Regions from separate parts of the Homo sapiens genome. Here all the other regions are reported to be linked to region 3. The links are microRNA targets in miRTarBase. Many come from high-throughput screens and were not tested one by one. Region 3 holds a microRNA gene; each other region holds the end of a gene's coding sequence.

Evidence for each region. The annotated mature microRNA hsa-miR-140-5p reads CAGUGGUUUUACCCUAUGGUAG and lies in region 3 at 5,214-5,235, opposite strand. An mRNA with a match to its seed (bases 2 to 7 or 8) in the 3' UTR can be bound and repressed. Matches are read on the target gene's strand: a 7mer-m8 pairs with bases 2 to 8, a 7mer-A1 pairs with bases 2 to 7 and ends in A, and an 8mer does both.
Region 1: the mRNA of PRDM1 is a reported target of hsa-miR-140-5p. Seed matches in the 3' UTR shown: 7mer-m8 at 3,828-3,834, 7mer-A1 at 4,413-4,419 and 7mer-m8 at 4,442-4,448.
Region 2: miRTarBase lists SIRPA as a target of hsa-miR-140-5p. Seed matches in the 3' UTR shown: 7mer-A1 at 3,064-3,070.

Annotation. Positions count from the first base shown.
Region 1 is chr6:106,104,598-106,115,303 of GRCh38, forward strand. It overlaps PRDM1 (PR/SET domain 1), which reads left to right. Exons shown (of 7, transcript NM_001198.4): 5 at 228-1,336; 6 at 1,774-1,902; 7 at 2,314-5,341. The coding sequence ends at 2,889. Among named protein-coding and RNA genes, the nearest start is that of PRDM1, 24 kb to the left of the region's middle. RefSeq lists enhancers at 177-891, 892-1,605.
Region 2 is chr20:1,934,944-1,945,649 of GRCh38, forward strand. It overlaps SIRPA (signal regulatory protein alpha), which reads left to right. Exons shown (of 8, transcript NM_001040023.2): 8 at 2,377-5,649. The coding sequence ends at 2,625. Among named protein-coding and RNA genes, the nearest start is that of PDYN-AS1, 6.9 kb to the right of the region's middle. RefSeq lists enhancers at 2,125-2,679, 2,680-3,232, 4,746-5,247, 5,248-5,747, 10,586-10,706.
Region 3 is chr16:69,927,632-69,938,337 of GRCh38, reverse strand. It overlaps MIR140 (microRNA 140), which reads right to left and starts at 5,257; the gene lies at 5,158-5,257. It overlaps WWP2 (WW domain containing E3 ubiquitin protein ligase 2), which reads right to left. Exons shown (of 24, transcript NM_001270454.2): 12 at 8,809-8,890; 13 at 8,080-8,208; 14 at 7,111-7,186; 15 at 6,758-6,829; 16 at 6,448-6,536; 17 at 4,209-4,368; 18 at 2,352-2,485; 19 at 1,886-2,026; 20 at 1,100-1,220; 21 at 686-790. RefSeq lists silencers at 4,486-4,676, 7,878-8,035.

The sequences.
Region 1 (10,706 bases), not on the chromosome of region 3:
TCTGTCTGTGCTGCCATTGTCCGCATTTTGCTGAGGAGGAAACGGAACTGCACTTTTGAGTGAGTGGCCCAGAGCCTTCTAGAATGAGAGTGCGTTGGAAGCCAGATATGTGGCGATTGTGTCGCCAGCTGTTACTCAGGTTTTCTCAAGAAGGAGGAGCAACTTTGGCAGTTTTGCTTCAGTTCTCTCTAGCCCTCTGTGTAATCGCCCCTTTTTCTTTATTTCAGCACAAACACAGAGCAGTCTAAAGCAACCGAGCACTGAGAAAAATGAACTCTGCCCAAAGAATGTCCCAAAGAGAGAGTACAGCGTGAAAGAAATCCTAAAATTGGACTCCAACCCCTCCAAAGGAAAGGACCTCTACCGTTCTAACATTTCACCCCTCACATCAGAAAAGGACCTCGATGACTTTAGAAGACGTGGGAGCCCCGAAATGCCCTTCTACCCTCGGGTCGTTTACCCCATCCGGGCCCCTCTGCCAGAAGACTTTTTGAAAGCTTCCCTGGCCTACGGGATCGAGAGACCCACGTACATCACTCGCTCCCCCATTCCATCCTCCACCACTCCAAGCCCCTCTGCAAGAAGCAGCCCCGACCAAAGCCTCAAGAGCTCCAGCCCTCACAGCAGCCCTGGGAATACGGTGTCCCCTGTGGGCCCCGGCTCTCAAGAGCACCGGGACTCCTACGCTTACTTGAACGCGTCCTACGGCACGGAAGGTTTGGGCTCCTACCCTGGCTACGCACCCCTGCCCCACCTCCCGCCAGCTTTCATCCCCTCGTACAACGCTCACTACCCCAAGTTCCTCTTGCCCCCCTACGGCATGAATTGTAATGGCCTGAGCGCTGTGAGCAGCATGAATGGCATCAACAACTTTGGCCTCTTCCCGAGGCTGTGCCCTGTCTACAGCAATCTCCTCGGTGGGGGCAGCCTGCCCCACCCCATGCTCAACCCCACTTCTCTCCCGAGCTCGCTGCCCTCAGATGGAGCCCGGAGGTTGCTCCAGCCGGAGCATCCCAGGGAGGTGCTTGTCCCGGCGCCCCACAGTGCCTTCTCCTTTACCGGGGCCGCCGCCAGCATGAAGGACAAGGCCTGTAGCCCCACAAGCGGGTCTCCCACGGCGGGAACAGCCGCCACGGCAGAACATGTGGTGCAGCCCAAAGCTACCTCAGCAGCGATGGCAGCCCCCAGCAGCGACGAAGCCATGAATCTCATTAAAAACAAAAGAAACATGACCGGCTACAAGACCCTTCCCTACCCGCTGAAGAAGCAGAACGGCAAGATCAAGTACGAATGCAACGTTTGCGCCAAGACTTTCGGCCAGCTCTCCAATCTGAAGGTAGGCCTTGAGAGAGAGCAGTCCAAGGGGCTGTGAGTGCATGCTTGTGTTTGTATTTAGCTTGCTTTCCATGGGGTATCGATTGCATTTGCAGTAGTATGAGCCCCCGGTTGGGGATAGTGGGTATGGATTCCGCCTGGCTTTTGCCACTTCTAGCTCTTTGACTTTGGACAAGTGACTTCCCTTCTCCTGATTTTCTTCTGAATAATAAAAAAATTAGGGGTTTGGACTAGAAGATTAGGTGAAACTCCCTGCTAGCCTGTGATTTTTGTGCTTTTAAGAAAAACACCATTCTGAAAACATGAAGATTTCTTCTTTTTAAGACTGTCTTGATGCTTTTCTTAAGATATTTGCATCAACACTTGAGTCTTGGAGCAGAAATGTTAGGTCTCAGAGCCAGCTTGAGAGCAGAGCTAACACATGTGGCTTCTTCCCAGGTCCACCTGAGAGTGCACAGTGGAGAACGGCCTTTCAAATGTCAGACTTGCAACAAGGGCTTTACTCAGCTCGCCCACCTGCAGAAACACTACCTGGTACACACGGGAGAAAAGCCACATGAATGCCAGGTGCGCAGTATTTTCTGGGTAGACCTTCTGACCTTTGTAGAAAATGTCTGTGAGTCACCCTCCCATGTCCTATATAGCCCGTAGTTAAAGCCAACACCAGATTCTGCGTTGTCCCATCCTGGACTGATGGCACTATGGTCCTTCCCAGTACTTTGTATCTGCTGATGACTTGAGATGGCACAGCCAGCTTCCAGTGGGTGGGAAAATGGTAGGGGAAATAAACAGCCCCTCGTGTGCTGTGTGCCCACATCCCCCCGTTTGCTTAATACCACACTGGAGGTGCCACAAGGAGGCTTCTCACCTCCTAGGTTGCTGGGCGTTGGCCGGTAAGCCTGCCCCTCCCGTTGGCAACTCTTAATCTTCTGGCCTTCCTGTCTCCCTTCCCTGCTGTCTCTCTCCCCTACACTGTAGGTCTGCCACAAGAGATTTAGCAGCACCAGCAATCTCAAGACCCACCTGCGACTCCATTCTGGAGAGAAACCATACCAATGCAAGGTGTGCCCTGCCAAGTTCACCCAGTTTGTGCACCTGAAACTGCACAAGCGTCTGCACACCCGGGAGCGGCCCCACAAGTGCTCCCAGTGCCACAAGAACTACATCCATCTCTGTAGCCTCAAGGTTCACCTGAAAGGGAACTGCGCTGCGGCCCCGGCGCCTGGGCTGCCCTTGGAAGATCTGACCCGAATCAATGAAGAAATCGAGAAGTTTGACATCAGTGACAATGCTGACCGGCTCGAGGACGTGGAGGATGACATCAGTGTGATCTCTGTAGTGGAGAAGGAAATTCTGGCCGTGGTCAGAAAAGAGAAAGAAGAAACTGGCCTGAAAGTGTCTTTGCAAAGAAACATGGGGAATGGACTCCTCTCCTCAGGGTGCAGCCTTTATGAGTCATCAGATCTACCCCTCATGAAGTTGCCTCCCAGCAACCCACTACCTCTGGTACCTGTAAAGGTCAAACAAGAAACAGTTGAACCAATGGATCCTTAAGATTTTCAGAAAACACTTATTTTGTTTCTTAAGTTATGACTTGGTGAGTCAGGGTGCCTGTAGGAAGTGGCTTGTACATAATCCCAGCTCTGCAAAGCTCTCTCGACAGCAAATGGTTTCCCCTCACCTCTGGAATTAAAGAAGGAACTCCAAAGTTACTGAAATCTCAGGGCATGAACAAGGCAAAGGCCATATATATATATATATATATATCTGTATACATATTATATATACTTATTTACACCTGTGTCTATATATTTGCCCCTGTGTATTTTGAATATTTGTGTGGACATGTTTGCATAGCCTTCCCATTACTAAGACTATTACCTAGTCATAATTATTTTTTCAATGATAATCCTTCATAATTTATTATACAATTTATCATTCAGAAAGCAATAATTAAAAAAGTTTACAATGACTGGAAAGATTCCTTGTAATTTGAGTATAAATGTATTTTTGTCTTGTGGCCATTCTTTGTAGATAATTTCTGCACATCTGTATAAGTACCTAAGATTTAGTTAAACAAATATATGACTTCAGTCAACCTCTCTCTCTAATAATGGTTTGAAAATGAGGTTTGGGTAATTGCCAATGTTGGACAGTTGATGTGTTCATTCCTGGGATCCTATCATTTGAACAGCATTGTACATAACTTGGGGGTATGTGTGCAGGATTACCCAAGAATAACTTAAGTAGAAGAAACAAGAAAGGGAATCTTGTATATTTTTGTTGATAGTTCATGTTTTTCCCCCAGCCACAATTTTACCGGAAGGGTGACAGGAAGGCTTTACCAACCTGTCTCTCCCTCCAAAAGAGCAGAATCCTCCCACCGCCCTGCCCTCCCCACCGAGTCCTGTGGCCATTCAGAGCGGCCACATGACTTTTGCATCCATTGTATTATCAGAAAATGTGAAGAAGAAAAAAATGCCATGTTTTAAAACCACTGCGAAAATTTCCCCAAAGCATAGGTGGCTTTGTGTGTGTGCGATTTGGGGGCTTGAGTCTGGGTGGTGTTTTGTTGTTGGTTTTTGTTGCTTTTTTTTTTTTTTTTTTTTTAATGTCAAAATTGCACAAACATGGTGCTCTACCAGGAAGGATTCGAGGTAGATAGGCTCAGGCCACACTTTAAAAACAAACACACAAACAACAAAAAACGGGTATTCTAGTCATCTTGGGGTAAAAGCGGGTAATGAACATTCCTATCCCCAACACATCAATTGTATTTTTTCTGTAAAACTCAGATTTTCCTCAGTATTTGTGTTTTTACATTTTATGGTTAATTTAATGGAAGATGAAAGGGCATTGCAAAGTTGTTCAACAACAGTTACCTCATTGAGTGTGTCCAGTAGTGCAGGAAATGATGTCTTATCTAATGATTTGCTTCTCTAGAGGAGAAACCGAGTAAATGTGCTCCAGCAAGATAGACTTTGTGTTATTCTATCTTTTATTCTGCTAAGCCCAAAGATTACATGTTGGTGTTCAAAGTGTAGCAAAAAATGATGTATATTTATAAATCTATTTATACCACTATATCATATGTATATATATTTATAACCACTTAAATTGTGAGCCAAGCCATGTAAAAGATCTACTTTTTCTAAGGGCAAAAAAAAAAAAAAAAAAAAAAGAACACTCCTTTCTGAGACTTTGCTTAATACTTGGTGACCTCACAATCACGTCGGTATGATTGGGCACCCTTGCCTACTGTAAGAGACCCTAAAACCTTGGTGCAGTGGTGGGGACCACAAAACAACCAGGGAGGAAGAGATACATCATTTTTTAGTATTAAGGACCATCTAAGACAGCTCTATTTTTTTTTTGCCACTTTATGATTATGTGGTCACACCCAAGTCACAGAAATAAAAAACTGACTTTACCGCTGCAATTTTTCTGTTTTCCTCCTTACTAAATACTGATACATTACTCCAATCTATTTTATAATTATATTTGACATTTTGTTCACATCAACTAATGTTCACCTGTAGAAGAGAACAAATTTCGAATAATCCAGGGAAACCCAAGAGCCTTACTGGTCTTCTGTAACTTCCAAGACTGACAGCTTTTTATGTATCAGTGTTTGATAAACACAGTCCTTAACTGAAGGTAAACCAAAGCATCACGTTGACATTAGACCAAATACTTTTGATTCCCAACTACTCGTTTGTTCTTTTTCTCCTTTTGTGCTTTCCCATAGTGAGAATTTTTATAAAGACTTCTTGCTTCTCTCACCATCCATCCTTCTCTTTTCTGCCTCTTACATGTGAATGTTGAGCCCACAATCAACAGTGGTTTTATTTTTTCCTCTACTCAAAGTTAAAACTGACCAAAGTTACTGGCTTTTTACTTTGCTAGAACAACAAACTATCTTATGTTTACATACTGGTTTACAATGTTATTTATGTGCAAATTGTCAAAATGTAAATTAAATATAAATGTTCATGCTTTACCAAAATTTGTCTAGTGTCTTGAGTGAAGGGTCAGTGAGCGACATCTCCATACTGTACAGATGGCACCAGAACAAATTTTGAACACAATGCAATTTGTCTCTCCCCTGCCCCCACCCCTGTTCTTCTGCAGCACCCTCTGGGGTGCCCTGATCTCCCCCGGCTCCTTCCAGGAGTATATTTGTGCGTGATCTGACAGCATTGATTTGTCTCTCATAACTAAGATTTTTCTTTATGAACTATAAAAATGTTCTCTAAAGGAAGCATTTCAAGCATCAGCCAGTAAGTGGGAGACGATTTGTTTGCTTTGTGAACTTTTACATTTTATTTCGTCAATGGACATGGGGTGGTGAGCAGATAAGGAGGACTTGGATCACTTCCAGAAATGCCCTGCTAGCTTGTGCCAGTCTGTGTGCGTGTGTGGAGACTCAGCACACTTATGGGTGTGGGGCCCTGGGAAGCTGGGTCAGGGAACACTTTGCCCATTGGTGACAGCGGCTTCAGTAGCTTCCTCTGGGCAGGCCATGGGGAGTGCCCTACAACCCATGTTTACTCCTTCACATGTAAGCACGTTTGCTATTTGCTACTTGTCCTTTTTTTTTTTTTTCTTTTTTTTTTTTTTGAGACCAGTTTTTGCTCTGCCACCCAGGCTGGAATGCAGTGGAACGATGATGTCTTACTGCAGCCTTTATCTCCCAGGCTCAAGCCATCCTCCCACCTCATCCTCCCGAGTAGCTGGGACTACAGATGCGTGCCCCCAGGCCCAGCTAATTTTGTTTGTTTTTGGTAGAGACAGTCTCACTATGTTGCCCAGACTGGTCTCCAACTCCTAGACTCAAGCAATCCTCCTGCTTTGGCCTCCCGAAGTGCTGGTATTACATGCATGAGCCACCGCACCTAGCCTACTTGTGCATTTAAAAAGTTTCCAGAAAGCTGCTTTCCCAGAATCTGAGCGTTGTTAGTGTGAGAGCCAGGTATCTTGGTGGTATGGCCATGTGGCCCTATGTGATGGGAACAAGTCTATGTGCTTAGCCATTCACGCTCCAGAAACTAACCTGTGTCCAGAGAAAAGGCTCACATAAATTCGAGTCTCATTTGATAGATGTAAGTAGGAGATGCTTCTAGAAAAGTGATAGTTCATTCAGTGAAAAGAAAATCTAAAAGCCCTTTGCAAGTGGTTTTCATGCTTCCCATTTCATCTATTAGCAAATTTATGGTTTTATGCGCATGCTGACTGCATGTTAAGAAAATAATGCTCCTGCTTACATTTGGACACTCAAAACTGCCTGATGCTTTGTTTTTAATGTTTCTTCTTTAAATTCACTTAAACATCTGTGCCCAGAATTTGAAATTCTGCCAACATGTAACTGTGGAGTTAAGAAAACCAGAACCCTATTGTCATAAACGTGCCAAACGGCGCTGGTTATATTCCTAAATTCTACAGAACCATTGTGGTAATAATTTTTCAAAACAAAGCCCAATAGGATCCTGAGAGTAACAGCTAACTACCATAAATCATAGTTCTTTACTTGGCAAATCATTTCTTTCTTTTTTTTTCTTGAGAGTTATATATCTTGGGAACACTTATGGACTTAGCTGTTTAATGAAACATTACATAAAAAGATAATATTCACTAATGAGCCCAAGTCCACCCAGCCAAAGTCCATACTGTTGGATCAAGACTTCATCCAGCTGTTTGTAGGACAAAGTAAGACTGAAGAAGCCACCTTTTTCTGAGTTTACCTTCAACAAAATAAAAACTCTGTGCAGAAATGATGCATTTAATTCCCTACCATGAGGCAATATATAGAATATACAGCACCGTGGGAGTCTATAGGCACATTTCTAGATATTTTTTCCTTGGGGGAAATGAAATCAATTTAGGATCCGTAAGTTGGTATAAATGAGCTCATTCCTTCCTCTGTGTGTGTGTGTGTGTGTGTGTGTGTGTGAGAGAGAGAGAGAGAGAGAGAGAGAGAGAGAGAGAGAGAGAGAGATGCCTTCTCTAAAAGGAGATAATGAGAAAAGGCCAGAACAGAGGAATGAAAGTAATTAGAGGCACATGGCAGATAATTTCTAATGCAAAACCAGGCCTCCAGGATAATCTGGTCTAGAAAGGAAGGCTGTACCACAGAAGGCAGCAGCTGAAAGAATTGATGAACAGAAGAGTTAGATAGAATGTGATCATTGAACCAGTCCAGAAGGCACTTCTGTTTCCTTTCAGAGATCATGGAGTTCTTTGTCCATAACATGTCATTTCATTCTCAGCTTCTGGCCAGAAGAAATCAGATCATTATGAACAGTGGCCATCAAATCTACTTCTGGGTATGAAGTGGCTACAAGAAATGTTTTAGGATTGGTGGATAAGCTTCCCTAACATCATTTTTCAAGCTTCAAGTCCTCAGAACCCAAGTTCATTTGCTCAAAGTGCTGCTGACAGCTGCTCCTTAAATAAGTGAAAAGTGATTTTAATCTCAATACAGTCTTAATCGTGTAATTCAGGCAAAAATGCAGCAAGATTCCAAAAAGTTATTTTTAACTGAATTTATGCAAATAGTCACTCTCCCTTTCCCAGTTTTACAGCATACTATAAACTAACAAACCCTCTCCTAGTTTGCTCTTCCTTCCAGGTTTGACAAGTAATGAACCAGGGTTGGCTGTGTGCACTTTTCCTTCTCTCTGAATTTTCGATAGGTTTTATTCAGCATAAACATGAATGTAGTCATCTTGTGGTTTTCCCCTACCCCCGTCATAAAAGAAAGGAGAAATGACAGATAAATAGCAATGGCTAATCTTGGTAAGAAATTCTTCAATATGTTAACAAAGGGGGTTCTCATGGAATTGTGGCAAAGTTCCCCAACTTCAGGTGTCTTAAGGATTCACCTGTGGATGATGGCAACCAGCTCTTCCCCATTGTGGGTAAGGAGCAGAACAAAGGAAATGAAATTAAAGCGTTGCAGAGGGGACTTTGGTTTAAGTCACCAAGACGAACACCTACATTTAGGGTTTGTAACACAATGGATTCCTTCCCATGGGAGGGAGCAGTCCCCATCCTTGCAGGGCTTAGAGAGGAATCCGTGTGTTTGAAAGCACAGGATGAACAAGATGCTCTGGTGAGCTTTTCCTAGGTCTTTAGTGTTTCATGTTCTTTAATGTTCCTGAGGCTTCCTTGGAAATGCTGTGTATTTAGGCAGATCTGGAGAGCCCGTCTGATTCTGAGGAAGAGTCTATGATATCATGAAATTAATTTTGCTGTATATTCTGTAAAATATTTTAAGAGATATTCAATGTTTGAATTCCCAGGGCTTCTGGAAGGGTCTGAAATTGAAAATGAGGCATGGTGCCACTGTCACCTGCATTACATGTGGCACTCTGTAAAGCAACCTCCAGGCTAGCAGCCTTTCAGCGCAGTTATCACTTAAGAAGAGAAGGGACCATCTCTGTGTTCTCTCCACTCATCAGCACTATTTCCCTTGAGTACTGTTTCCTATCCACAGGCAAAGGAAATGAGACACACCGCAGTCCCCTTCCACATAACCCTATCTTGCCTCTCCAGTTTTTAGTACAAGCGACCTGACAGTGATTTGCTGTGAGATCAACCAACTGTGGATCATTAATGGGGTCACTTACTCTTTCTTCCATGGCTCTCAGGGCCAGAGTTTAAAAATACACCCAAGATGGGAACTGAGTTGATGAGCTCCTACCATCACGGAAAAAGCGGCATATCAGGAGTTTAGGGAGCTTGGTTCTAGTCCTGATTCAGCCCCTGGTTAAGCGTGTGCTCCCAAGAAAGTCCGGGAACCTCGCTGGGCCACAGTTTCCTGGTCCTTAAAAGGAAGGAGTCATTTCCTGGGTTGTCTTCCTGTTCTTTGGAAGATGTTCTTACATCTCCTAACATGCTCAGATTCCACTGTTTTCTCTTATTTCCTTTTGATTTGTTTTCCTTGGAACTCCGGTTGTTGCTATAGGCAGATATTTGTAATTTAGAGAGCAGATGTCGGAGAAAATGAAAATGAGGGGCAAGTCTGTATGGAAACAACTATTGTGGCTTCTTTTGGCAAAAGTGAGTGGGCTTGCAAAGGTCCTGCTAATTTGTAAGAACCATGAACTTTCCCCAGGAATTAATATGCTCATCTGAAAGGAATCAAGATTCTTTTAATGGACATAATGGCTTATGCTTAAATCAAACTTCTGCTTAAGTACCATGAATTCTAGGATGTTTAGTGGGTTTTTGTTTTTTTTCTTCGTCTTCTTTCTCTTTTCTTTTTTTTTTTTTTTTAAAGCAAAGGCCTACATGTAAGATGACTGAGAAAGATTTAAGCCCCTTGCCACAAAAAGGAAAGGGGGACAAAAATATGGGCAGCTAAAGAAAAGAATGAGAACCCAGTCAAGAGACCCTAAGAAGACGTTGAAAGGAAACGTTTCAGTTAGAAAGTAATCAAGGCCCTGATACTGTTTTAACGGCTCAAAGTTTAAAAAAGGGAATAAAGAAAAATTAAACTGAGAGAGGGAGGAGAGAGGGAAAGGTTAAGCCAAGACAGAAACTGTGAGCAGATAGATGTGAAAGGGGCTGAAAGTAAGTGAAAAGTGAAAAATTGCTTTATGAATAAACCGTTGAAAAATAGTGAGTGAAAAAGCAATTGTGCTTCCAGTTATTACTGAATCACAAGCTCGTGGAAGACAGAGGCTGACCCCAGCAGCAACTCCACACTAACCTACATCGCAGCAGTTGGTACACTGCAGTTCCTGTGGGCGGACACCGTTTTCTACTTGAGTGTTCAGTTTCATTGTGATTACCCTCCATCACCGTCGCATGTGGGCCATTTTACCGCCTTGAACACAAAAAACCTGACTTGGTCATCTCTCTAGCCTGCTGACACTCCAAAGCAGGTGATATCCTCCAGAGGACACACAGAGACCAAGGGGTAAGGGCGAGGGGAAGGCAAGCAAACCTGAGAGAAGGAGAAGCCTCTGCCTGCCCCTGCTTTTTCCTGAAAATGACAGTGTGATTTCACACTCAGTGCCCCTGGTCATTCCTGGAGGTGCGTTCCCACAGGGACATGGTATGGCCCGTTGGACAAGTCTCTTCCGTGCTGAGAGCCAACAGATTGCCCTTCTTAGGAACACATCCGGGCTCAGGCTTAGCAAATGAGACGCCAACCATAGCAAGCTTCCCTCCACCCCTTGGCATACTTGGGGAAGCACGGGGAGCCCTAGGAAGTGGACCAGTTCCACCAGTGTGACCGACTTCCTCCTCCTTCAGGAAGAGGCTGAATAGTGGAAGTGCCGGACACCTGCCGTAAGAGAAGTCAATCCTCATGAAGAATGGCTGGTACCAAATGGCACACGCTGTTTCCAAAGCTGCAGGCTTGC
Region 2 (10,706 bases), not on the chromosome of region 3:
CAGCCTCATGACTCAGTGCGACCCATTGCACAACTCCCCAGGGGCACCATTCACAATCCGTCCTATGAAAATGGTGCCCTGGAGTCAGGCTGCAGCTCCCTTAGTGTGGATCGTGCCTTCCCATCTCTCTACATTTGCCCAGGCCCATCCCTCTACCAGGAGCGCCACTCCCAGCTCACTGCCCGCTCCTCACAGCCAGGCTTTTCTATGCTGGAACTGCAAAGCCCAGCCTGCCAGGGCCTCTCCCACCTTTGCTGATGGAAAGACCCCATGTCATTAATTACCTCACACAAGGGCACACTCACTCAAGCTGGAGGTTTCTGGTCAGCATTGCTGAGATGATTTTGCAGCAACACGGTTTCTGAGAAACCTAGCCCTGCTTATCACCGGCTGATGCTGTCAGACCTTGAAGGCAGAGGGCTGCTCAGCATCTTGTAACAAGACAGGCCCTGCTCTGAACCCGGAACGAGAGCGCGCCAGCTGTCCTTGACATTTCCAAGGCAGTTGTCATCTTTTTAGATGTAATCTGTTGAAGGAGTCGGGCTGGTGAAAGGCGCAGCATTTGTAGACCAAAATGCCTTGGCCCTGCCCTTGTGACCCATGGGGTCCCCCCGCAGCCCCGGACATGAGCTCGAGTTGTAATTAAGAAAAAACAATTTCCAGTCATGAGCGAGGGAGATCTTCTCCCCCATCATTTTACTTCTGGACTTCCTCCTGGAATCTTCTGGGGGAAAAAAATGATGGTGAGAAGAATGGGTCATGGAAACCTCTACGAAATTCACAGCAGAGACTTACTGGGCACCCACTGTGTGCCACGCACTGGACAGTGAGCCAGACAGTCACAGCCCAGCTGGCAGAGTGCCTGCGATTCCAGTGCCAGGTGCCAGCCCTGGCCAGGGAGGGAGTTGCACGCTGTCAACACGGATTTCCCAGACAGAAGCAAATGAGAGCACGCAGGGCTCAGGACAGAGGAGCTGTGTGCTAAGAGCACAGTCGTAGAGTCCAACACACTTTGGTTCTTTGCCAGCCGGACAACTTTGTCCACTTTATTGAACCTCCCTTGGTCTCAGTGTCTTCAGCCGTAAAGTGGAATAGATAATCCTTCCCAAGCAGGGTTGTGGTAAGAGTGGATGGGGTGATCTATGTGATTGTGTGCTGCTTGTAAGCCCTGAGAACTGAAATCAGCCATTACCGTGCACCAACTAGGAGGTGTGCCGGTTGGTGGTAGCTTTATTCTGTTCTATCACGCAGGGGCCAGTCACAGAGGGAGCAAAGTTTATCATTCATGATGGGCGCTTTTGAGGCGGCAGTGGCAGGTTGATAGGATTAGCACATGGGAGGTATCCAAGTTTGCTAAGTGGTTAATGATTGCGAACATTTATTGAAGACAGATGCTCAATAGGTACCAGGCTCTGTTCTAAACGCTTTACCTGGATAATCTCATTCCATCCTCACAGCAACCCTGGCAGTAGACACTATTATCATCCCCTCTTTACAGATGGAGAAACTGAGGCCCAGAGAGGTTAAGTGAATTGCTCAAAATCCCTGAGCTAGAACCAGGATTCAAACCCAGGCTTTCTGACTCCAGAACGTTTCCCGCTTCACTAACTGGCGATCTCGTTCTTATACTGCCCCTGTTCTCTGTCTCCCTGTCCCCAGCTTTGCCCTGAGTGAAGGTGAAATTATTGCCATCCACTCATATATTCATTCAATATGGATCAGACTTCTTATGTGCCAGCCTTGGTTTCTGAATCATAACAAATGCCCAGTGAATATTTGTGGAATAAACGCATACATTAATGAATGTCCCCACACGTACCACCATCAGCAGCACCTCCTCAGGCCCCCAAACAGACATGGTCCTGGGTAGCGGGCCCTGTGATGGAAAACAAACATGGGCTGAGGAAGCACAAAGAAGGAACATGGACCCTGCCAGGAGAGGGGAGAGCCAGGGAGGGTCTTAGTATGAGCCATGCTTCATCTGAAATTTACATGGTGGATTGGGATTTGTTACAAGGAGAAGCAGGACAGACACCCTCGAGGGATGAACATGAGAAATGGGTGAAGACTGCAGGTGGTTCAGGCTAGGAGGAGGCAGGAACGGGAGGAGGTGACACTGAGGCGGGGCTGTGAGGAGACTGCACTGTGCGGGTCAGAAAGACCCTTCAGGCAGGGTGAGGAGGAGGGCAGATGGGAAGGGGCAAGGCTGGAGGCAAGTAACGTTGGCAAGAGATGAGGGGAACATGACTTATGGCTGAGCCAGTGTGGGCCGAGAGGACACAGAAGCATCCAGACTTGGTATTCAGTTTGAGTGAGTGGGCCAGGGGCTATAGAATGACCTTCTCATGACTTTCTCTTTGGGTATCTTAAATCCAGGACACAAATGATATCACATATGCAGACCTGAACCTGCCCAAGGGGAAGAAGCCTGCTCCCCAGGCTGCGGAGCCCAACAACCACACGGAGTATGCCAGCATTCAGACCAGCCCGCAGCCCGCGTCGGAGGACACCCTCACCTATGCTGACCTGGACATGGTCCACCTCAACCGGACCCCCAAGCAGCCGGCCCCCAAGCCTGAGCCGTCCTTCTCAGAGTACGCCAGCGTCCAGGTCCCGAGGAAGTGAATGGGACCGTGGTTTGCTCTAGCACCCATCTCTACGCGCTTTCTTGTCCCACAGGGAGCCGCCGTGATGAGCACAGCCAACCCAGTTCCCGGAGGGCTGGGGCGGTGCAGGCTCTGGGACCCAGGGGCCAGGGTGGCTCTTCTCTCCCCACCCCTCCTTGGCTCTCCAGCACTTCCTGGGCAGCCACGGCCCCCTCCCCCCACATTGCCACATACCTGGAGGCTGACGTTGCCAAACCAGCCAGGGAACCAACCTGGGAAGTGGCCAGAACTGCCTGGGGTCCAAGAACTCTTGTGCCTCCGTCCATCACCATGTGGGTTTTGAAGACCCTCGACTGCCTCCCCGATGCTCCGAAGCCTGATCTTCCAGGGTGGGGAGGAGAAAATCCCACCTCCCCTGACCTCCACCACCTCCACCACCACCACCACCACCACCACCACCACTACCACCACCACCCAACTGGGGCTAGAGTGGGGAAGATTTCCCCTTTAGATCAAACTGCCCCTTCCATGGAAAAGCTGGAAAAAAACTCTGGAACCCATATCCAGGCTTGGTGAGGTTGCTGCCAACAGTCCTGGCCTCCCCCATCCCTAGGCTAAAGAGCCATGAGTCCTGGAGGAGGAGAGGACCCCTCCCAAAGGACTGGAGACAAAACCCTCTGCTTCCTTGGGTCCCTCCAAGACTCCCTGGGGCCCAACTGTGTTGCTCCACCCGGACCCATCTCTCCCTTCTAGACCTGAGCTTGCCCCTCCAGCTAGCACTAAGCAACATCTCGCTGTGGACGCCTGTAAATTACTGAGAAATGTGAAACGTGCAATCTTGAAACTGAGGTGTTAGAAAACTTGATCTGTGGTGTTTTGTTTTGTTTTTTTTCTTAAAACAACAGCAACGTGATCTTGGCTGTCTGTCATGTGTTGAAGTCCATGGTTGGGTCTTGTGAAGTCTGAGGTTTAACAGTTTGTTGTCCTGGAGGGATTTTCTTACAGCGAAGACTTGAGTTCCTCCAAGTCCCAGAACCCCAAGAATGGGCAAGAAGGATCAGGTCAGCCACTCCCTGGAGACACAGCCTTCTGGCTGGGACTGACTTGGCCATGTTCTCAGCTGAGCCACGCGGCTGGTAGTGCAGCCTTCTGTGACCCCGCTGTGGTAAGTCCAGCCTGCCCAGGGCTGCTGAGGGCTGCCTCTTGACAGTGCAGTCTTATCGAGACCCAATGCCTCAGTCTGCTCATCCGTAAAGTGGGGATAGTGAAGATGACACCCCTCCCCACCACCTCTCATAAGCACTTTAGGAACACACAGAGGGTAGGGATAGTGGCCCTGGCCGTCTATCCTACCCCTTTAGTGACCGCCCCCATCCCGGCTTTCTGAGCTGATCCTTGAAGAAGAAATCTTCCATTTCTGCTCTCAAACCCTACTGGGATCAAACTGGAATAAATTGAAGACAGCCAGGGGGATGGTGCAGCTGTGAAGCTCGGGCTGATTCCCCCTCTGTCCCAGAAGGTTGGCCAGAGGGTGTGACCCAGTTACCCTTTAACCCCCACCCTTCCAGTCGGGTGTGAGGGCCTGACCGGGCCCAGGGCAAGCAGATGTCGCAAGCCCTATTTATTCAGTCTTCACTATAACTCTTAGAGTTGAGACGCTAATGTTCATGACTCCTGGCCTTGGGATGCCCAAGGGATTTCTGGCTCAGGCTGTAAAAGTAGCTGAGCCATCCTGCCCATTCCTGGAGGTCCTACAGGTGAAACTGCAGGAGCTCAGCATAGACCCAGCTCTCTGGGGGATGGTCACCTGGTGATTTCAATGATGGCATCCAGGAATTAGCTGAGCCAACAGACCATGTGGACAGCTTTGGCCAGAGCTCCCGTGTGGCATCTGGGAGCCACAGTGACCCAGCCACCTGGCTCAGGCTAGTTCCAAATTCCAAAAGATTGGCTTGTAAACCTTCGTCTCCCTCTCTTTTACCCAGAGACAGCACATACGTGTGCACACGCATGCACACACACATTCAGTATTTTAAAAGAATGTTTTCTTGGTGCCATTTTCATTTTATTTTATTTTTTAATTCTTGGAGGGGGAAATAAGGGAATAAGGCCAAGGAAGATGTATAGCTTTAGCTTTAGCCTGGCAACCTGGAGAATCCACATACCTTGTGTATTGAACCCCAGGAAAAGGAAGAGGTCGAACCAACCCTGCGGAAGGAGCATGGTTTCAGGAGTTTATTTTAAGACTGCTGGGAAGGAAACAGGCCCCATTTTGTATATAGTTGCAACTTAAACTTTTTGGCTTGCAAAATATTTTTGTAATAAAGATTTCTGGGTAATAATGAGTCCTTCCGGTGTTCAGTATTCTTGTCTTTGTGAGTGCGTCCCGGGGCCGCCTCGGGGCCTGCCTGCCCTCCTGCCAAAGCCTGGAAGAGGATTGAATGGACCCCAGGGTTTGGAAACAACCTACAGCATTTGAGCCCCTCACGTAGGTTTTAGAGACGTACAATTTTTGTTTGCCCTGGCTCAGAAGGAGCCGGTGTAAGGTTGAGATAAAATTCCATATAGACAACTGAGTTTGGATCTCGGCTCTGCTGCTTTGTAGCTGTGGGAGTTCAAACAGCACCTCTTTGAGACTTGGGCCCCGCGTCGGCACAATGGGGCAGGAATAGTCCCTGCCAGGGTGACTGTGTGGATTCAAGGAGGTTGGAAGCACTGAGCCCACGCTTGGCACTGGGTAGGCCATCACTGAGGCTTGTGTCTTTCCTTCCTGCCCTGACCCTGCATAGCTGAGTCTCGTGGCCTCTCACCACTGATGGGATCTCGGACACCCGGCTCACCCTCCTCCTGGGGCCTCACTTTCCTTCCCCACCAAATGCAGACATCTAATGCTTGTCCTGTAATATCCTTGCCAGATGACTGATGTCAAGTGCTGGTTTATAGTGGGTGCTCAATAAATGTTAGTTTCCTTTCTATCCCTCCATTAGATCATTAATGATATTAGTGCTAATTATGTAATAAAGTTAAGGCATAAATATGTTAATATTTAGTGGTTACTATGTGTCAACGCTTTACCTTGATGAATTCTTAAACCTTGTGACTCAAGGGCAATTATGTTACTGACTGTAGATGACACAGAGAGAGGGTGCAACTTACACAGGTTCACACAGCTAATGAGTGATGTTACTGAGCCTCCAGTTCCAACTGGATAACTGTAGTGCCTGATGCTTAGCCACTGGGTTAATAATCAATACGTCATGTATGGACCACTGACTGCAAAATTAACCACCATGATAGCTAATAACAGCTATGCCAAGTGTGCTGCCGCGTGCTTCACAGTTAGAACTCATTTCCTTCTCCCAGCTACATGAGGGAGGAACTCTTGTTCTCTGTGCTTTGCAGATAAGGAAACTGAGACACGGAGAAGTCATTTCTCCAATGTCCCATGGCAGAGCAGTTTGAAGCCAGGGAATCTGACTCTTCTCCCCCACACTGTACTTACTGCCTCATTTAATTCTCATGACTATCAGATCGCTGTGGTTGTGCCCATTTTGCAAAGAAGGAAAGATGAGGTTCTGGAAGTGCATGTGACATGACCAATCTCACGCAGAGTCTTTAGTCAAGTTGAGACTTGAACTCAGATCCACAAGCCCACTGGGGATCATCCCTACACCCTTGGCCTGGTCCATGTGATCAGAGACCACCTGAACCAAGGAGCCTTCTGCGGGGCTCAGAGAGGTCACCCTCCTCTCAGGCCAGGACCTTGGCTGTAACAGACAGCTCAGCAGTTTCCTGGCCCGTGGCCTGAGTTCAGCTCTCCGCCTCCCTCCGGGAGCAACCCATGAAATATGTGCACTGCTTGCAGGAATGGGGTGTTCAAGGCATGAATCCAGGCCGAGTGGGTGGGGAAATGCCTTCCATTCTCTGGGAAGGTGGGGGATGATGGACTGCGTGTCCAGACAAGGAGACTTGGTGGGTGTATTTCATGCAGCACCTGGGCCTTGCTTCTCCACGGCCAAATCTCCAGGGCTGGAGGCTGGCAGGCGAAATGAAAGTTGATGGGAGCTAAGTGGCCCTTTTCCAGCCCTCCAGGAAATCAGTCAAGCATTTGGCATTTATCGGACACCTCCTTGGGGTTCCTCCTGGTGCAAAGGAGAATGCTAAGACTCCCTTCCTCCATGAGGACCAGGCCAGAGTCCTCTGCCTTCCACCTGAAGCCCCTGCCCATTTTACGTGATAATCAGGAAAATCTCCACTGGCCCCCAACCCCAAGATTTGAATGCCCAACTGTAAAAGCCCATGTGTCTTCTAGCACATTTCCAACAGCCAAGTTTTGACGAAGGTTTATTTAATTTTGGCATAAACACATACTACATATTAGACACTCTCCTAAACTCTGGACAAGTATTTATTAAAATTAATTCACTTTATTCTCTTAACAAACCTATGAGTTAGGTACTATGATTATCCCCCACTTAATAAAGAAATGGAAACACAGAGAGATTAAGCATTTTGCTCCAAGGTCGCCATCCGGGAAGTGACGCCACTGTGGGTATGGTCTAGTCCAGCACTGAATGGGCATATGATGGGGGCTGGGGCTGATAGTGAGAAAGTGGGGGGCATAGATAATGTTCAGGATACACTGGACACTGTCAGTAGCCAGAAACACCACATCTCACCACCAAAGTGTCAGAACATCAGGGTGATATGGCTGCCTGGCTGCTCACCAGCCAGCCGAGGCACCCTTGAGCCTGCCACTGCTGGGATCCCCGACACCACCCCGCTTCACCACCCTCTTCACTGTGCCTGACCAGGCTCTTGGTTTCTTTTCTGAATACAAGATTATGACATTGAAGATGCTTTTTAAGAAGACGTGCTCCTGATGTTCAAAAACAGGCAAAACCTTGGCAACAGAGATCAGAAGAGTGGCTGCCCTTGGAGGGAGGACCAGGAGAAGCCTGGGGTGGCACATGCTCTACGTCTTCCTGAGTCGTGGTTATCTGGGAGGTTGCATATGTAAAAACCTTTCCAGCTGCACATTTAAGATGGGTGCATTTCCCTGTATATAAGTTATGCCTTGAATTTTTTAAAAGATAGATGCCCAGCCCTGTCCCCCTCAACCTTTGATGCCTGCCCCTCCCCACCCCCGGCCAATCTATTTTTTAAAGTTAGTGTCAACACCTTATCTTCGGTAGCTGAACCCAGCCCAGGGCCTGGCCCCAGTGAGGGGCCCAAGGAGTGTCGCTGAGTTCATTGGAAAGATGAACATCCCCGTGATCAAAACAGCACAGAAAACAGTGAAAGATGCTAAACAGCACAAAGATTAAGGATGGCTACAAGCATAAGCCATTATCTGTTATCACTTCATCTCCTGAGATTCCTTCCATCACTTTTCCTCCTCCTCCACCCATTGGAATCGGATACAACTGCACCCCAGAGTCCTTGCCCTGTGACCTTGGGCAAAGAGATTCACCACTGGGCCTCTGCTTTGTCACCTGTGAAACAGGGATAGTAGCAGCCTTCACCTCCGGGGGTTCTTGCGAGAGTTCGATGAGAAAGTAGATTTAAGACTCTTTGCAGCAGTGTGGTGCAGACAGCAGTCGACATATGCACAGAAACACACACACATTCACACCCACACACTCACATATCAGGCCAGGTTATTAGAGCATCGCTGCAATGGTGGGTCTTCTGACGAATAATTTTATCAAGTCCCTCTCTTTCTCATTAGCCTGAGATAGGTCTCTCTTACCAACCTTTCGGGTATGGGGTGCAACACCCCAGCTTGGTTTTCGGAGTCCTCTGCCTTATACCACCACCTGACCTGTTTAAGAACATTTCCTGCTCCTCCCCAGCCCCTGCTGGACTCCTTGGCCAGGTTGATTTTCCTCTCCCAAGAAATACTATATAGCAACTCCTTTGACTTCCCTAGCCCCACCATGAGTCATTCCTCCAGTGACTTGGTGTCCTCTTGACCAGACATGAGCTCCCAAACCAGAACTTCACGCTCTACCTTTGGGATTCAGCCCCTAGGATAAGGGAGACTAAAGCCTACCATGTGCCACGCTGGACTCTGGACACTCGAATTCTTTACTTCATGGAACCTTCACATTCTTTACAAATGGAATGTCAATTTCACAGGGAAGAAAATTGAGGCTCAGAGAGGTGGAGAGGTAATAAGTTCAAGATCTTTCAACTAGTAATTATTTCTCAAGCTCCTACTGGAACCTGGCCCTGTGCAAAGTTCTGAGGACACAATGTGGACAAAAAATGGACCACACCCATATGAGCTCATATATGAGGGAACCAGAGCCACTGGCAATCCCAGTGCAGGGATGAGCGCTGCTGAGAAGGGCGTGACAAACATGACGTACAAGTGCAGAATTAACACACTAATGAGTGAGCCAGCAGTGGGGCAAGAGCTGGTTCCAAGAGTAAATGGGCACTTAGAGGCTTTGAAAAAGGAAGGTGAGAATAACATTTTCAAGTTAGAGATCAATCCGGTTAATGTCCCACAAGGCAATAAGGCCATATCTTTGGAGATATTTTTTTTCTGCCAGACAGAAGCCATTTGCACCCACCAGACAAAAGTCTACAAATTAGCCCCAATCTGGGCCTTAATCAAATAGGAAAGACAAACTCAGGTATATTCTTCTACAGAACTAACTAATCCTTCAGTGGGGCTTTTAAACCGTGCCCCAGTATGGCAACGAGATGAAGCACTGCCTTCTTTTGCCTTATTTCCAAATTTGAGATACTTTGTCTTATTAAAGGAAAGTATACTGGCTTCATTCAGCCTGCACAGGGCAGAAAAAGACTTCTTGAAGAGGAAATCCCTGAACTGAGATCTAAAAAATAAGTAACAAGAAGCCAGGTAAGTGCAAAAGAGCCAGTGCAAAGGAGTTCCAAGGAGCCAGTGCCTGGCAGAGGCCAGCCGTCCCTGTGTGCACTGGCCCCTACTGAGCTCTGCAGCCCGATTCACACCACTCTCTCCATCACTCCCTGCACTGGCAACACCAGCCTCCTGCCAGTTTCTAAAATGAACCACAGGACCCCGGCATGAGCTACTCCCTCTGCCTGCAACACTCCCTGGATCTTTCCTGCTTGTCCTCCAATCCAGAGGCTGGGCTAAGTTCCCTTGTCAAACACTTCCATAGTAACCATGTCCAGCCCTTCTTTGTAGCCCTCATCTCAATTTGTAATTATACATTGGCACTGTGATTACATGATTACCATCCTCTCCTCTACTGCCCCAGTTGCTGCCTCAGGGCAAGGAGGGTGTTGATTCACTCATCAGTGTAACTCCTATGCTAAGCCCATAGGAGGCACCCAGCAAATATTAGAGGGATGGGAGGATGGACGGAGTGATGAGAAGGAGGATGAGAGGATAGATGGATGGAAGAAGGGAGGCTGAATGGATGGCTGGATTGATGCAGGAGAGCACGGATGGGTGGATGGGTGGGAAGGAAGAAAGGAAGGGGGAGAGGGAGGGAAGAGAGCAAAGGGGGAGAAGGAAGAGCATAAAAGTCGGAGTCTGCTTGGCATTTTAGGAGAACTGAGAGTCCCTGGCTGGCAGGTTTGGAACTAGAAGCAAACCTCAGTACATCTGACTTTTCCCACTGAGTTTCTCTGCCTTTCATCATGATCCTGGGTTCAGGGCAATCACTTTTTTAAAAAAATGACGCATGATCCCCAACAGGCAAGGAGCCAATGACCTTTGTCTGAGCCTTTGGTTCCTCTTCTAGAGAAACTGGGGCTATACTTAGAAAACAGGATAAAAGATTGCAAAAATTTGTCTACTCTCAAATTGCACAACCCTAGCGTGGCTGGTCAATGGCTCAACTTTGGGAGCTGGCGGGGCTCAGCCTCTCAACAGACTTGTCCTCCTGGCTCTGCTTCAATGACAACAGGCCAAGCCCTCATGGTAGAAGGTGCCGTTCCCACCAACCTGGGCCTTCTGCCCCCGCAGGCCCTCTCTGGGCAAGGTCAGCTGGTGCGGCAGCCGGTCGCATGGATCTGGGCCACAGACCTGTCTCCAGAATGAGGCCGGGTGAGAGTTTAATGGCAAGAAGGCTGCAGCCTGACTAAGGCTGTCGGCTT
Region 3 (10,706 bases):
TGTGTATCTTAAAAAACTTAAATGGGTTGGGCACAGTGGCTCACGCCTGTAATCCCAGCACTTTGGGAGGGTGAGATGGAAGGACTGCTTGAGCCCAGGAGTTCAGGACCAGGCTGGGCACCATAGCAAGACCCTGTCTCTATTGAAAAAAAAAAAATTAATAGTTAATTGTATGTTATACAAATTTCACCTCCACAAAAAATTTGTATACGTACATATGCACACAGACATGTACTAAGAATACCTGTAATCGCTATTTTTTTTTGTATGCTGTATTTCATAACGACAACAACAAAACCCATACGTATAAAAGAATCAACACATTAATTATACATAGGATGACAGCTCTTTCTGGTTTCTGGAGCCAAGCCCCTGCCTTCCTGTCCCATCTGGCTGGCAGGGGACCTCTCAACCAGTGGCAGCTGCTGTCTGCCTGCAGGTCTGTCCCTGCACACCAGCTGGCCCAAGGCTGACCACTGACGACCTCCTGTCACATCCACTGGCCACCACTCAGCTGGAACTGTCCCCGTTCATCCCAAGGCTGGTCTATCGTCTCCTTTTGCAAGGTGTGGGAGGCAAGGACAGGGCCAAAGCTGAAGGTCCTTGCGCGTGAGGCCTCCTCAGGACCCGTTTCCTTTGGTTGATGGCCCAAATGTCCCTGCCAAGGCCTGGGCCCGGGACCCACCTGCCAGAACCACTGGATCTGCTTGCTGTTCTTGGTGTAGTGCCGGTAGATGGTGCTCTTCTGCCAGTCGCTCATGTCTATCTCCTGCATGCCGCACAGCATCAGCTGGGGAGAGGCGGCAGTCAGCATCCCCGGCAGGTCCCTCCCCGCGCATCGTCCACTCGCTAGCACTTGACATTACCCCAAACATATTCAACTAGCTATTTTTGGTGTCAGCGTTAATAATATGGGTAATGTAAGTCCCTGCTTTCTTGAAACAAGTGTCTGGGGAAGGGTGGGTCCCAAATCAAACCCATCTGCCCTGCCGAAGTGGGAGTTTTACGCTGAGTGTCTGTGGGTACACAGTGAGCGTATCACAGAGCAGGATCGCCCCAGAGGCAGGGGCTCAGGGTCCCAGCAACCTCAGACACTCACCTCCAGCTCTTTCTCGTCAAAGTAGCGCAGCCACTCCAGCGGGGCCACCTCGTTGAAGCCATCCAGGAAGGCTTTGGTCTGCTCTTCCACGCCTCGGGTGAAACGCCAGTCAGTCAGCAGCCTGAGACCAAAGAGCAGCCATGGGTGGAGTCTGAGACCCACTGCTCAGGGGTGGCTCCCGGCCAGGCCGCGTGGCCGTTACCGCGCAGGACCACCAGATCAGCAGAGCCCACTTCGCACACCCAGACCCAGCCTGCTGGAGGACCTAGAGTGAGGCCCTGAAAACCTCACAGTGACCTGCAGACACCGGAGTCTTTGAAATCATCCTCACCACCACCTCCTCCTGCTCCTGCCCCCAGCGCCGACTGAACCTCAGACGTATGGAAGCGTGGAGATAAAGACTAAAGCAAGAGGCCTGAGGAACAGGCACGGAGAACGGGCACACGTGAGACGGTGGGTCTAGGCACACAGGCCACAGAGATCCTTTCGGCCCGGAGAAAGATGCAGATGTCTCAGCTTGATGCCACTTCAAAGAAATTCCACGCTGCAGGCTTGAAGTCTCCCACATGGCGAAAAAGCACAGCTGGGAGTCGGTAACTAAGGACCTCGGCTTTGGTTCCCCCAGCTCGCGCCATCACATGACCGCCCACCAGCAGCCACCATCAAGGCAAATGCAAATGGCATCCACAGTGACCGATGGGCCACAGGTGGGGGCCCATCTTTCTCTGCAACCCACTAGATCTCCACGCCACCCCTGGAGCGGAGCCCCCGGCGCCTGAGACTCACATGATGTACTCTTCCTTGTTCTCCTCTGTGACCCGGATGCTCTCGCCGCCCTCCTTCAGCTCGTGGGTCGTCACCTTGCCCAGTATCTCCATGTCCTGGATGAAGTACAGCTCCAGGCCACATTCTTCCAGGTTGTTCTCTCTGGGGGCACAGGAGACCAAGTGGGGAGATGTCTACCGTGTCAGGGTCTTTCCTGGATCCTGCTCTGTTGCCCGTGGGACACCAAGGGCCCACAGGTGGCCTAGAATCCTGAACAGTGACAGGGGACAGCTCCTTGACTCAAGGAGAAGGTTCTAGAACTGTCCCCAGGGAACCCAGAGGACATTCCTCTCCACAAGCTCTTATAGAGGCTGGAAAAGAGCTCAGGGGCCACACTGGCAGACAAAATAAAGGCCATCAGTACCTGCTTCCCACCCAGAGACGTCCCTCCTATCAGCGCGGTGGGGCAAGGGGGCAGGGAACTCACTTGATCCAGACAATGGAGTTGTAGAACTCAGGGTCAATGGACTCCAGGTCTTTCAGGGTTGGTCTCTTATTGAGCATCCGCTTGTAGAAAGGGAGGGTGAAGCCCGTGTCGATGAACTTTCCATGGTACAGCGCCTGGGAAGGAAGAGGCACAGCACAGAGGTTTGGCCTTCCCTGGGCACTGCCAAGACCAGCTCTCAGATGCTCGGTATCAAACTCTGCTACCGCTACCCGCCTTCCTTCCCTGACAGAACTACAGCAGCAGCTGCCTCGGACGCAGCGGGAGGGCCTCAGGAGTAAACAACGCCTTTATCCTGACTTGTACCTACAGAGGGACTCCCACCCTGCCCTGCAGACCGCAAGGACTGGGCAGAGCCAGCTGGTGCGGGAACCCACGTCCGGGCCCGCATCTGCCCCGCACGCTGGCCGGCTGGCTCCTGGCCTAGCAAAGGTCTGCCCCACGCTCACAGAAAAGGCTTGCTCTGAACAGCTGCAGGTGGCAGCCCTGATTCACTGGCGCTCAGGGTGGGTGGCAAAGGCAGCCAAAAATAATGCAGACACCGCCGACAGCGAGAGCTGGCGGCCAATGGTGAGTAATAGTCTAGGGTTTTACCGGTCTGTCCTGCTGGCTGCTGGGCCAGGCGGGTCTCTAGACCTGGGAAGAATGTGCCCATTTCCAGAGCCCAGCACCTTGGCCAAGAACTCCTCGACGATGGGAAGGGCCGGCCATATTTAGTCACAGGCTCATGGGGCGCTTGGGTCCTCCTAAGAGGGGAGCCGGGTGGGACACTCAGGAAGGCAGGGGAAGAAGCGAAGGAAAGGAGAATTGAAACATCTCCAGCTATGCATGTGGCTCCCGCGCTGTGCCTCCCACGGGCTCCGCTTCTCAATCCGGGTTCTCCACGCTCCCAGGACCCTCAACGGGGCACGTGGCAGGACCTCCCTTTCCATATTCACATTGTGTCCCTCTTTCCAGTTAAATACAGACGCTGGGACGCCCCTCCCCAGAACTGGCTCACTTTCTGACAGATGTCCCTACACCCTGCACCAGCCAGTCTACTGTTCACCAGGAGGCAGCGTGGCGTGAACGGCAGCGCCCATGGACTGGCGCGCCCTCTCTGGGCTCTACCCTTCGCCCCCATAGAGCTGGTAACCTAAAAATGTAAAAAGCTGGAGATAGTTCTGGAGAAACCAGAGCTTTCTCAGTGGCTGCCCTGTAGGTACTGAAGAGTTTCCATGTTGCTTTGCATAGGACTTGTCAAGAGGGGGCCCAGGGTCTCTGGGCCACAGACTTTACGTTTTGTTCTACACTAGTGTTGATTCCAAATGCCCTTCCAGAAGGCTTAGTGTCTCAGTGGGACATTCCCAAATGCCGTGACAGTGTCACCTCCCAGAGACAGGCAGCAGGTGGGCAGCTATGGTTTCACCTGGCCCTGTCATCCCAAGGCCCTCAACAGAGCACATATTTAATGTTCAGTAAAGTCTGTGGCCCAGCGACCCTGGGCTCCCTCTTGACAAGTCCTGTACAAAGCAACATGGAAACTCTTCACTACCTACAGGGCAGCCACTGAGAAAGCTCTGGTTTCTCCAGAACTCTCTCTAGCTTCTTGCATTTTTAGGTTACGAGCTCTATGGGGGCAAAGGGTGGAGCCCCGAGAGGGTGAGCCAGTCCACGGGGGCTGCCGTTCACGCCACGCTGCCTCCTGGTGAACAGGCCCAGGGCCTCCTCCAATGCTGCCCCTTCCTGGAGGTCTCAGAGAAAGAGCAGATTCCCCTGGTGCCCCTGGCACACTTCACCAGGAGAGGGAAGAGGAGGGAGAGGAGGAGGGAACTAGGCAGACCCCTGGGGCCCCCTTACCATGGCGATGAATCTGCCTATAAAGCGAAAGTAGGTGAGGTGGTCCGGGTTGATGGAGGAGGCGGGGTTGATCTGCAGGCAGTAATTGTTCTTTCCGGCATATTCAAATAAACAATACATAGGGTTGAGCACCTCATGAGACAGGAGGAAAAACCACTCTCTGTGAGGGAAGAGACAGAAAAGACAAGAATAATGGGTCCCTTCGTGCACATCTGCACAGGAGCTGTGTCTCTTCACCATCGTGTCTCAGGTTAGTATGGGGACACGTGTCCCAGGGAGTCGAGCCCTGTGACAAGCACCCGGGCTAACCTATATGAACAGCTGGTCAGTGAACAGGGCAGGCTCAGACCTACAGTGAACCAGGGCGGCAACTGCATTTGAGGATGATATTTGGGAAAACGTGTGATTGTCGGCTCCCAGGTGATGTGTTCCAAGACTTTACATCACAATATCCAGAGCTTCTAATGGTAAAGGGGGTCCTTGTACCCTGGGTCACCATGCTCAGTTGCCTAGGCTGTGCACTGCACAAGGGCACGATGCATGTTTATTACAATAATTTTTCTGCAAAGGTTCTGTTTGAATAGTAACTACCCTGTTTCCACTCTACCTGGGCGGGCAACATAACGTAAATACACAGCAACACATTTCCAACCCCGATCCATGACAATGTAATCCATGCTGCCTTCAGATGAGAAACCTCATGCCCACCAGCTATGCAACACTCTTGCACTTTGCCCTCCCTTCACCCCCAGACCCCAACACCATCCCCGTTCCCACACTTCCACGCATTCATCTGAACCAACACCCGTGCCCTGGGTGCGAGCCTCAGGCATGAATTCAGAGTCCTTTTGGGCTTGAGCTAAACCAGCAAGGGGATGTCCCAAGGGGGCCAGTCCCCAGCTGCTGGGCTGTTTGTGGCTGGGCAGACGAGGAGTCCGTCGACGCAGAGGGTGCCCCGGTATCCTGTCCGTGGTTCTACCCTGTGGTAGAACAGCATGACGTAACCTACCATAGGGTAAAACCACTGGCAGGACACAGAGAGAGACACACACAGGGCGCGGCCACACCAGAAGCCCACCAAGCAGAGCCTGGAGAGGAGGTCACCACGGAAAAAAGGAACATCCATCCACGGGGCCAGCGCAGAAGGCAACGCCACCACCGAACAGAGGACCAGAAGCAAGTTAACCCAACACCAAGCGGGAAGACATGCCCACACCGGGAGAGGTCTCGAGCGGAGAGGTCGCTGCGGGCCACAGCGCTCTCTCTCTCTGCCGGGGCCCTTCTGCCCTGCTGTCCAAGGCAGCATTTCCCAGAGGGCCTGTTAACTTTTATGGGTGGACCAGGGTGAAGGCAAGACAATGCTTTGGACTCTTTTTAGGGTGACATAAGCCGTTACAGTTTTACTGACCCCAGGCATGTGACATGCAGTTGAGCCCTGCTCAAGGCCCTGTGGATCGTGACACAGCTTATCCACACGGGGACACCTGACTTCACCTGCCCTGGCTGCCTTAAGAGGAGGGGATCCCAGGGTCAACTCTAATGGATGACCACATGGCCCCTATATTCAACTGCCCAGATGCTGCTGGCCTGGTTGTTAAAGTACAGAAACATGACACATTGGTAGATAACAGAGCCATTGTACTGAGCTCTCGCCCCTCCCAGGAGTCCTCCGTCGCCTCATGACCCAGTAACTAAAGGCTTAATGTCCAGCCCAGTGGGGCACCCCAGGCCCCTGTTCCAGGCCCAATGGACTGGCCACATGGATTCACGTATTTTGTTTTTTTGTTTGTTTTGTTTTTGAGATGGAGTTTCGCTCTTGTTGCCCAGGATGGAGTGCAATGGCACGATCTCGGCTCACTGCAACCTCCTGCCTCCCAGGTTCAAGCGATTCTCCCGCCTCAGCCTCCCCAGGAGCTGGGATTACAGGCATGCACCACCACGCCCAGCTAATTGTGTATTTTTAATAGAGACGGGGTTTCTCCATGTTGGTCAGGCTGGTCTCGAACCCCCGACCTCAGGTGATCCACCTGCCTCAGCCTCCCAAAGTGCTGGGATTATAGGCGTGAGCCACCGCGCCTGGCGGGTTCACGTATTTTGAATGCCACACTGTGCCCATTCCTGAAGATGCATGAGAGCTTTGGGAGGGAATGTGAGCAGGGGGCAGGCAGCTTTCTGGCCATTGATGCTGTAGCCTGGGGAAGCGGGGTACAGGGCAGCCTTCCGGGGCACTCAAGCTCACCTGGCGATGCCCCCATAGTCCAGGCCCTCCTCGCCACGCATGATGATGTAGAGCCGGCGGCGCAGGTCATAGGGTTTCATGTTCATGATCTGGGAAGACAGAGCATCGGGCCAGCCTGCCACTCTCCCTTCCACAGCAGGCAGGGGCGGGAGGGACAGGGGACTCTAAGGCCCAATATCCAGCAGACACAGTCACCAAGACTCACGCCCTGGAAAGTCTGCAGTGTGGGTTTAACAGGCCACGCGATAGGAGATGGGGTGCTGGGAGGAGGGCGTCGGCCTGCCACTGGTTTCGGGCACCATGATCTAACCTGTTGGAAGGAATCTTCGAAAAGCGTCTGCCTGGAAACGCTGATCTTCACGTGGCTAGGTAGGGCATTTGACTGAAAAAAAAAAAAGAAAAGAACTTTAAATCGAGCCTCAAGTGGTCATCTGTTCTCCTGTCTGTATGAACAGGCATTCCCCAGCCTGCTGGGCCAGGAGGCAATAGCATGTGCCCTAGGAATGAAAACTAGCTTCCTAGAGACAGCCAGCTCCGGGTTAGACAAGTGTCTTGCGCCCGCCTAAGACACAAACATTCCGATACCTGCTGCTGTGCCGGGAACTCACACTGAAATAACTCAATAACCCCAACTGCCACGGGAGCCCCAGTACCAGAACTCACATGGCAGAGGAAACGGAACTGGTGATACTTCCACCGAAAACTGCGGTCATAAGCACCAGGGGAACCTTGCTTCGTCCTAGGAAGAGCAAAGATGTTCAGGGGTTCATGCGATTTCTCAGAAAATGAACAATTTGTCTTTGTCAGCCCTAAGGAAAGCTGGTGCTATGTTAATTTAAAGATTAGTAATGTAAGGTGAGGAAGTGACTGTCATTAAGATCCTTGAAGAATAAAAAAGAAAATCTAGAAATAAAGCCAGACTTCTTGCTTTTAGAGAAATAACTCTAGTGTCATTCGGAATAAACAGGATAGTCCCTTCCTCCCCATCCCATCTTATTTATTTGTTTGTTCGTTTTCTAGAGACGGGGTCTTGCTCTGTCACCCAGGCTGCAGTGCAGTGGTGTGATCATGGCTCACTGCGGCCTCGAATTCCTGGTCTTAAGCGATCCTCCCGCTTTAGCTTTCCAAGTAGCTAGGACTACAGGAGTGTGCTACCACACCGAGCTAATTTTAAATGTATTATTATTTTTTAGAAACAGGGACTCACTCTGTCACCTGAGCTGGAGTGCAGTGGTGCCATCATAGCTCACTGCAGCCTCAAACTCCTGAGCTCAAGGGATCCTCCCACCTCAGCCTCCTATGTAGCTGGGACTACAGGCATGCACCACCACATCCAGCTAATTTTTAATTTTTTTTTGTAGAGATGGGGTCTTGCCATTTTTCTCAGCCTGGTTAATCTTTTTTATTGTTGTGGAGACACGGTCTCGCTATGTTGTCCAGGCTGGTCTCAAACTCCTGGGCTCAAGCTATCCTCCCATCCCCTTTAATATGACATCAACATTGGCCACTAGAGGGCAGTAAGGGCAGTAGAACGCACCACAGGGGCCACCCAAAGTGGGCCTCCCAGAGCCAGAACAAGGACAGCCTGGGCCTCGGCTCCTGACACTGCTGCTACCTGCACAAAGTCCTTACCCCGACTCAAACCCCGGGCGAGGATCCTTAAAGGTGGTGGTGCGGGTATTGTGGTCCACAAAGTATCGCACCCCCTCGCTGGTGTATTTCATCTCCCATCCTGGGGGCAGAGCTGGTTCCTGGATCATCCTGGAAACACGGGAAGAAAAGGGTGAAGGGCTGGCCCCACCTTCTGGACCTTGGTGGTTGGAGGCTGGGTCCTCAAAGTGTGGCTTTGTCTCTGCAGAGCCCATGAGGGACTTTGAGGACATGCACCCAAGAAGCATGACCCAAGTCGTGAGAACAGTTCTGCAGCACGGAGAGGTCACTTATTATCTCATGGCCAAAAACCCAGCCCTGCATGGATGGCATTGGACTGAGCAGCCACCAGCAATCCTGAGGCACCCTGTGCCCCAGCACAGCTTCACTTGGGGGTGTTGGGAGACCAGGATGCCCTCAACCTTTTTGCAATCCAATTATCAGCAGCCAGCACAATCAGTATGGAGACCAGCAACACCCGCCAGCCGGGCCGCCCTCCATCCACCAGGAAGGTCTATTTAAGAAACCCCTTTTAAGCTCTCATCAGGCCAACAGTGTATCTGTACGGTGAGAGTCTCAAGACACTTGTGTGTGGCTAAAGGTCCCTGACATCAGCCCTCTGGGACGATGCAGTCCAAAGCCACCTGCCCAGTGCTGGAGCTGCACAGAGACCCAGCCCAGCCCGGCCCCCCTCTCAGCCCAAGTCCTTACCCCTGGGTCCGGGGATCCTCCCACTGGGTCGTGCGAGTGTTATGGTTCACGTAATACACCCGTCCATTGTCCTGTCTCTTCTCTGCCACATGAGAAGAAAGAAAGAACATCAGATTCAAACACGGAGAGCCGGTGTCCTTTCCCTGAGGTTCCCACCTCCTGGGTGCTGGGTCTGAGTTTATCTCCCTGTTGTCAGCCTGTTAGAGAAGAACCAGCCAAAGCCAAGCTCACTCACACTTGTCACTGGGAAAGGGACAAAGAGGGTCCTTCCTTGTTGGTGGTGGGGGGCGGGGGTGACATACTTCCAACTCGAGATGAAGCACTTCTTTGGTTGATTGGTCGGAGGGAGGGGGTGGTGTGGCCACCCAGAGGGAGCAGCACAGCTCAAACCAGAGGCATAATTGCTCCCAGCTGTGTGCAGCATGGAAGCCGGGCAGTCCCTAACCCGCCAGGCCCCCCACCCAAGTCCCTCACAGCTGATCCCTGGTCCTGGGACCCTCTGCACTGCATGCAGCTAACCTGGGCGCCTCTGTCCTACAGGGCGTGGTCCTTATGGAGTGGCTGCATTTCCCTCGCACCTCTCTGATCAGTGCTCTGCACCCTGCGCCCCTGTACCCTCCAAGTTCTCCCTCTTCTCCCACTTACAGGCTAAGTCTTGTTCTAAAACTCTCATACCCTGGCACGCCTCTTTCTTGCTTATAAGCAAATAAATGATATCTGGGGCTGAGGACACTTACACTGCCCAGCCTCTTCTTAGACTTGTATCTTTTTTTTCTTTTTTATATAAAGACAGGGTCTCGCTATGTTGTCCTGGCTGGTCTCGAACTCCTGGCCTCAAGTGATCCTCCCGCCTCAGCCTCCCAAAGTACTGGGATTACAGGCAATAAGCCACCGTGCCTGGCCTGCCTATCCTGTTCTTAGGCCTAAGTATGTGCTTTGAGACAGGGGAATGTTCATGGAGTGGGGCTGGGGAACAAATACACTTTTCCTCTGCTCTGAACAATCTCTGTTCTCTTGCCCTTTACTGATATACTGATAAGGGCTCTGGGGTCCCCAAGGGAGGAGTCTGTGCTCCAGGGGCAGACCCAACCCTAGCTGGTGATTCTGGACCTTGAGAGGGATTGAAAGGGATAACCTCTCAGCTCCAGGTAGACAGGAGAAAAAAAAAACAAAAAACTAGGGGGTAAAGCTCTTGGCTCAAAAGAGGTCACCTTTCCCAGGAAGTTCCTGAGCCTTCAAATCTGCTTCTCTCCTGAAAACAAATGATGCTAATGGCTCTCCTTTTACAAGACAGGGCAGCATTAAAGAAACAAAAATAATCAGTTCCAGAAGCTACAGGGAACCAGAAAGCTGAAAAAGGAGCAGAACAGGGAAGTGCAACAACCCCCTCCTGACTCCAAGACTCGAGCTGCAGTGCTCCCAACACCAGACCAAGGCCTCAGTCTCCCTCCCACTCTCTGCCTTACCTGGTATCTATGACTCGACTGAAATTTTACAAACAGACATTATTTGTCAATCATACCTCAGTAAAGCTGGAAAAACAAATAAATAAAATAAAAATAAAGACAGGCTGGGCACGGTGGATCACGCCTGTAATCCCAGCACTTTGGGAGGCTGAGGCAGGAGGATCGCTCGAGCCCAGGAGTTCGAGACCAGCCTGGGCAACACAGCGAGACTTCATCTCTATTTTGTAAATAAAAAATAAATAAAAGAAAGCCAAAGGAAAGAAAGAACAGGAGGTGCCCAGAGCTGTTACAGAGCTACCACCACCTCAGAACACACAGAAGGAAGGCTTCCCAAGAGGTTTCCAGGGGAGGGGCTGCTCCCAGCCCCGAAGCTACTGCTTTGAACTAGATCCTCCACGTCTGCCCTGTTAAGGGCCAAAGCCAAGGCTAACC